2 linked regions of the Homo sapiens genome follow. The protein of the gene in region 1 purifies or fractionates together with the protein of each later gene. This does not show direct contact. Each region holds a gene or a part of one and is shown in the gene's direction. Other genes may lie near its edges. The genes, in order: FAT3 and HPRT1.

The links.
Region 2: the proteins of FAT3 (region 1) and HPRT1 fractionate together in Homo sapiens (co-fractionation; one large-scale study listed by BioGRID). This does not show direct contact.

Annotation. Positions count from the first base shown.
Region 1 is NC_000011.10:92,350,300-92,354,127, forward strand, and holds part of FAT3 (protocadherin Fat 3 isoform 1 precursor), read left to right. Parts: intron 1-1,796; 5' UTR 1,797-1,813; coding exon 1,814-3,828.
Region 2 is NC_000023.11:134,469,964-134,473,791, forward strand, and holds part of HPRT1 (hypoxanthine-guanine phosphoribosyltransferase), read left to right. Parts: intron 1-3,395; coding exon 3,396-3,502; intron 3,503-3,828. UniProt on the Homo sapiens protein: Converts guanine to guanosine monophosphate, and hypoxanthine to inosine monophosphate. Transfers the 5-phosphoribosyl group from 5-phosphoribosylpyrophosphate onto the purine.

The DNA of each region.
Region 1 (3,828 bases):
GGTTTTATAAACCATACAATTTGTAATATTTTAATATGTTAAACTCCTGTAGGGATTTTTTTTTTTTTCAGTTTGCAGCCAATAACTAGAACTACATTAAAACCAGAGAGGAGATAACCAAAAAGATATGCTGGGGGCAGGGATGGGTTGTACTTTTTAAAATCAATGACATATGTTGACTATTTCATTAGAATTAAATTATGTCATATATGCTTCTAGGATCCTTAATTATTTCATTCTTGCTTGCAGGTAATTTTGAGAGAGTGATTGTGTGATGGGGAAAAGCATGGATTTTAGAGAAAGATTAAGGTCTGAGATCCTGCTTTACTACTTGCCGGCTGGGGAACATTGTTTGGGCAAATGTCTCAACTAAATAGATTAACTTCTCTGACCCTCAGTTTTCTAATATGTCATTGGGTAAAATAGTACCTATTACTTAGGATTATCATGAAGATTAAATACAACAAAGTGGAAAAATGACTGACACAGTGCCTACATCATTACATGCCTGCAAAGAAATTCATTTTCCATCTCCTCTCATCTTCACGTTCCCTGTAAAGGAAGAAAAGGAGAATGTCAAGGGCTTGCAGAGTATAAGACTGGATGGAAGAACTCATATTTGGGGGTTCTAAAAATCTGATCCTTTGGGTATGAATAGACTTAACTTTTTCTTGTTGAATACCTCCTTTCTCCCTTCTCCTTGATTGATTTTACTGGCTAAAATAGGAAAAAGTTTGTATCTTTTAACCCACATAGTCATGAAACTGTAGAAACTGTCCAAATTTAATAGTCATTGATGAAAGTAATTGGAAGTATCTCTTGTAATTTCTAAAGTTTTTCTTGCAAGTAATCACTCTTACCTCCCTTGTTCTGAATAGTTCTGGATATCACTCCAGTCATATAACTCCTTAGGGATTATTGTCTCTGCTTTGTAACTTGACACTTTGTTCATTCTCATGGCATTGCATTATTCATAAACCTTGATCAGTTTAAAAGTAAGCACAATAAAAGATGGTAATACCTTGAAGCATTTTAAAAAGATTATAATTATAAAAGTAATTATGTAACTATTGATGAACAATGTTCATTGAAGAAAAGTTAGAAAATGCAAATATGCCACCAAATCCCAAAACACAGTTAATCCTTTTTAAATATAAAAATTCATTTGCACATATAGGTGTTTATATAATAATAGAACTCATGCTATATATACTGTTTGATGACCTTTTTTCCTTAGCATTACATCTTACTGCATCTGAAAATGCACATCTTTTATGTCTCTATTTTTAATGACTGCATAATATTTTATTTTATGAATACACCATGAATTATTCAGTCCTCTATTGATAGGCATTTAGCATCTCTTCATTTTTTTTTTACTTTAAACTGTGCTATAACAGATAATTGTCTAAATGTTTCTATAGGATAATTACTGCAAAGGCAGTTCTAAGTCAAAGGTAAATGCACTTAAGGCTTCCAATATATCTCTAAATTGACCTTCAGAATGTAAGAAATCTTGTACCAATGAACAACGCTGTCAGTAGTATAAAAGTGTTATTTAAAACAAAGTGTCACTTGAAAACAATTCTTACAAGATTGGGCTAAATTCTAGTAATCTTAAGTTCCTTATTACCTAGTAGTGGCAAGGTTTCTAATTTTTTCTTATATTGCTGTTTTAGTAAAAAGATTTTGTGATAAAGTTTTAAAAAGCATGGCTTCCTAATAGTTATTTCCCACTCTCCCCCTTCTTCTAGGATGGTTAATTTATCTTTTCTCTCTCTCTTTCTTCCCTCCAGGATGGAAGTATGATGTGATGGATATAATTATGGGACACTGTGTGGGCACACGGCCTCCTGCTTGTTGCCTCATCCTCCTGCTTTTCAAGCTTTTGGCCACTGTCTCCCAGGGGCTGCCAGGGACTGGACCCCTGGGCTTCCACTTCACACATTCCATTTATAATGCTACCGTGTATGAGAACTCAGCAGCAAGGACCTACGTCAACAGCCAGAGTAGAATGGGCATCACCTTAATAGATCTATCCTGGGATATCAAATACAGAATAGTGTCCGGAGACGAGGAAGGCTTTTTCAAAGCAGAGGAAGTCATCATTGCAGATTTCTGTTTTCTCAGAATAAGAACTAAAGGTGGCAATTCTGCCATATTAAATAGGGAAATCCAGGATAATTATTTATTGATAGTAAAAGGTTCTGTCAGAGGAGAGGATTTGGAAGCATGGACCAAAGTGAATATACAGGTTTTAGATATGAATGATCTGAGACCTTTGTTTTCACCCACAACATACTCTGTTACCATAGCAGAAAGCACACCTCTAAGGACTAGTGTTGCCCAGGTGACTGCAACAGACGCAGATATTGGTTCCAATGGAGAATTCTACTACTACTTTAAAAATAAAGTTGATCTCTTTTCAGTTCACCCCACGAGTGGTGTCATCTCCTTAAGTGGTCGATTAAATTATGATGAAAAGAATAGGTATGATCTGGAAATTTTGGCTGTGGACCGGGGAATGAAACTGTATGGGAACAATGGAGTGAGCAGTACTGCAAAGCTTTATGTTCACATTGAGCGCATAAATGAACATGCCCCAACAATCCATGTAGTCACTCATGTTCCTTTCTCGTTGGAAAAAGAGCCAACATATGCAGTGGTGACAGTTGATGACTTAGATGATGGAGCGAATGGAGAGATCGAATCTGTTTCCATTGTGGCTGGGGATCCTTTAGATCAGTTCTTCCTGGCTAAGGAAGGAAAGTGGTTGAATGAGTACAAGATTAAGGAGAGGAAGCAGATTGACTGGGAGAGCTTTCCCTATGGCTACAATCTCACTCTTCAAGCAAAAGACAAGGGATCTCCTCAAAAATGTTCAGCATTAAAGGCAGTCTACATTGGCAACCCCACAAGAGACACTGTCCCCATTAGATTTGAAAAAGAAGTGTACGATGTGAGCATAAGTGAATTTTCCCCTCCTGGTGTCGTGGTTGCTATAGTAAAATTAAGTCCTGAACCGATAGATGTGGAATACAAATTATCTCCTGGTGAGGATGCAGTGTACTTTAAAATTAATCCTCGGTCGGGTCTGATTGTTACAGCACGGCCACTGAATACTGTTAAGAAGGAGGTTTATAAACTGGAGGTGACAAACAAGGAAGGAGATTTAAAAGCACAGGTCACCATCAGCATAGAAGATGCAAATGACCACACCCCAGAATTTCAGCAACCACTGTATGATGCTTATGTGAATGAAAGTGTCCCAGTGGGAACCAGCGTTCTAACAGTTTCAGCTTCTGATAAGGATAAAGGAGAAAATGGGTACATCACCTATAGTATCGCTAGCCTGAATTTGTTACCATTTGTCATTAATCAGTTTACAGGTGTTATTAGCACAACTGAAGAACTGGATTTTGAATCCTCCCCAGAAATTTACAGATTCATTGTTAGAGCCTCTGACTGGGGTTCACCATACCGCCATGAAAGTGAGGTCAATGTGACTATTCGAATAGGAAATGTCAACGACAACAGCCCTCTCTTTGAAAAAGTGGCTTGCCAGGGAGTTATTTCATATGACTTTCCAGTTGGTGGTCACATCACAGCAGTCTCAGCGATCGATATCGATGAACTTGAACTTGTAAAGTACAAAATCATTTCTGGAAATGAACTTGGCTTCTTTTATTTAAACCCAGATTCTGGTGTTTTACAGCTTAAAAAATCACTGACAAATTCTGGCATTAAAAATGGCAATTTTGCCCTCAGAATTACAGCAACTGATGGAGAGAATCTTGCAGACCCCATGTCTATTAACATTTCAGTCCT
Region 2 (3,828 bases), on another chromosome or scaffold:
TGTTCACATAGGTGACACACAAATGTCCCATTTTCATTCTTTCTATAGTAAATATGTTCTGATATGTGAAGGTTTAGCAGATGCATCAGCATTTAATCCTAGAGGATCTGGCATAATCTTTTCCCCCAAGAATAGAAATTTTTTCTGCTTATGAAAGTAGTACATGTTTCTTTAAAAACAAATCAATATTGACTTCTGCCTGCTGTATAGCACTATGCCTCCACCTGGCCATGACCAGGGGCATGTCCTGGTCCACCTACCTGAAAATGTTTGCAACCAGCCTCCTGGCCATGTGCACAGGGGCTGAAGTTGTCCCACAGGTATTACGGGCCAACCTGACAATACATGAAGTTCCACCAAAGTCTGAGAACTCAGAACTGAGCTTTGGGGACTGAAAGACAGCACAAACCTCAAATTTCTCAGCACTGGAAACCTCAAAATATAACTGAATTCCATAAATAAGATTTTAAGTCTTAAATATGTATTTTTAAATGTATTAAAAGTCAAGCTGCTTGTATTTAAGCACCTAATACAATGCTTAGGTTGTAAAAGGAGATGCTCAATAGGTACTAACTGATATATTGAGATTTAATTATGGTTTGACCAATATTTATTGGAAACCGCCAAAGCTTAAATCATCAGCTTCTTGAATGTGATTTGAAAGGTAATTTAGTATTGAATAGCATGTGAGCTAGAGTATTTCATTCTTTCTGGTTTATTTCTTCAAATAGACTTTGAATATAATGGTGAATGGGTATTATAAATTAACTAATAAAAATGACATTGAAAATGAAAAAATATATATATTAAAGTGTAGAAAGTGACCAGGCGTGGTGGCTCACACCTGTAATCCAAGCACCTTGGGAGGCTGAGGCAGGAGGATCTCTTGATCCCAGGAGTTCAAGACCAGCCTGGGCAACATAGCGAGACTTCGTCTCTAAAAAAAAAAAAGAGAGAGAAAAAAATTTTTTTTATTTAAAAAAAGTGTAGAAAGTGTCAAGACCCCACTTCTTACCATTATTTGGTATATTTCTCTATACCCACCCACCCTTCCTCCTTACTCCCTCCCTCCCTTCCCAATCTTTTTATCTTTTTGTATTCTGATTTTTTGTTTGTATATTTTGCTTTAATTTAATGTATCCTTTAAAAATTTCCCATACATTTTATATGTATATATAAAAACGCATGCTGCCAAAGATAATTTATAAGAAAGACCATTGAATTTTTTTAAAAGTGATATATATTCATTGAAAAAAATTTAGAATATATAGCAAAGCAATAAAGAACTAAATAAAATTGCTGTAACTCCTCTTTCAAAGATAAGTGCTTTTATGATTTTGTTGTATTTTTTTCTGTATATAGGTACATATATAGTATTTATAAAGCTGTACTCATAGTACATTTTCACATCACAGGTACCATATCAGTGTTATTAAATATTTTGTATGCCAGGGGCTAGACATACCAAGACAACCAATATGTGGTTCTACTTAAATAATATTAGAGTATCTTTTATGATGACACTTCATGAGTTGACTATAATAATCTTAGACTTCTAAGAGTTTGGGTTTTCAAAAGATCACTTAGCTTTTTTGGGTGATTTTTCCCCCTTACTGTGAGATGAGAGAGGCTGTTTGGATTTGGGATTGGGGTAGCGGGGACAGCAACTTTTCTTTTCTTTTTCTTTTTTATTTTGAGGTAGGGTATTGCTGTGTCACCCAGGCTGGAGTGCAGTGGTGTGATCTCGGCTCACTGCAACCTCCACCTCCCGGGCTCAGGTGATCCTCCTGCTTCAGCCTCCCCAGTAACTGGGACTACAGGCGCGTGCCACATGCCTGGCTAATTTTGTATTTTTAGTAGAGATGGGGTTTCACCATGTTGGCCAGGCTGGTCTCTAACTCCTGACCTCAGGTGATACGCCCACCTGGGCCTCCCAAAATACTGGGATTACAGGCATGAGCCGCTGCATCAGCCAGCAGTTTTTCTTGTGGTTTTTTTTGTTTGTTTTGTTTTGTTTTGTTTTTGAGATAGGGTCTTACTCTGTTGTCCACGCTGGAGTGCTGTGGTATGATCGTAGCTCACTGCAGCCTCAAACTCCTGGGCTCAAGTGATTCCTTCTGCCTCCGCCTCCCGAGTAGCTGGGACTACAGGTATGCACCACCATACCTGGCAAATTTTTACAAAGTTTTTTGTAGGGACGGGGTCTTGCTACATTCCCCATGTCGGTCTTGAACTCCTGGCCTCAAGCAACTCTCCTGTCTCAGCCTCCCAAAGCACTGGGATTACAAGTGTGAGCCACCACACCATGCCAGTTTTTCCTGTTCAGTGTGATATTTTATCTTGTTAGACTACAGTGTGTTAAAACTTGTTTTACTAAATTTTCAAACATACTCAAAAGTGGAGAGAATAGTATAATGAATACCCGTATGTTCATCACCCATGTTTAGAATATTATTAAATATAAAGATTTTGCTGCGTTTGTCTTAGCTCTTTAAAATTTTTCTTTTTCTCTTTGTGACCTAAAGGAAATTCCATATCTTATCACTTTACTTCTACATTCTTGACTAAGATGACTAAGACATATAGTTACATGGTTTTTTGTTTTGTTTTTTGTTTTTTAAAGACGAAATCTCGCTCTTGTCCCCCAGGCTGGAGTGCAATGGTGCCATCTCAGCTCAGTGCAACCTCTGCCTTCTGGGTACAAGCGATTCTCCTGCCTCAGCCTCCCAAGTAGCTGGGATTACAGGCTCCTGCCACCACGCCTGGCTAATTTTTGTATTTTTAGTAGAGACGGCGGGGGGAGGTTTCACCATGTTGACAAGGCTGGTCTGGAACTCCTGACCTCAGGTGATCCACCCGCCTCGGCCTCCCAAAGTGCTGGGATTACAGGCGTGAGCCACCGCGCCCAGCCTGTTTTTTTGTTTGTTTGTTTTGTTTTTTTTGAGACAGAGTCTTGCTCTGTTTCCCAGGCTGGAGTGAAGTGGCGCATTCTTGGCTCACTGCAACCTTCACCTCCCAGGTTCAAGTGATTCTCCTGCCTCAGCCTCCCAAGTAGCTGGGACTACAGGCATGTGTCACCACACCCGGCTAATTTTTTTGTATTTTTAGTAGAGACGGGATTTCACCGTGTTGCCCAGGCTGGTCTCGAACTCCTGAGCTCAGGCAGTCTGCCTGCCTCAGCCTCCCAAAGTGCTGGGATTACACGTGTGAACCAACCCGCCCGGCCTGTTGTTTTCTTACATAATTCATTATCATACCTACAAAGTTAACAGTTACTAATATCATCTTACACCTAAATTTCTCTGATAGACTAAGGTTATTTTTTAACATCTTAATCCAATCAAATGTTTGTATCCTGTAATGCTCTCATTGAAACAGCTATATTTCTTTTTCAGATTAGTGATGATGAACCAGGTTATGACCTTGATTTATTTTGCATACCTAATCATTATGCTGAGGATTTGGAAAGGGTGTTTATTCCTCATGGACTAATTATGGACAGGTAAGTAAGATCTTAAAATGAGGTTTTTTACTTTTTCTTGTGTTAATTTCAAACATCAGCAGCTGTTCTGAGTACTTGCTATTTGAACATAAACTAGGCCAACTTATTAAATAACTGATGCTTTCTAAAATCTTCTTTATTAAAAATAAAAGAGGAGGGCCTTACTAATTACTTAGTATCAGTTGTGGTATAGTGGGACTCTGTAGGGACCAGAACAAAGTAAACATTGAAGGGAGATGGAAGAAGGAACTCTAGCCAGAGTCTTGCATTTCTCAGTCCTAAACAGGGTAATGGACTGGGGCTGAATCACATGAAGGCAAGGTCAG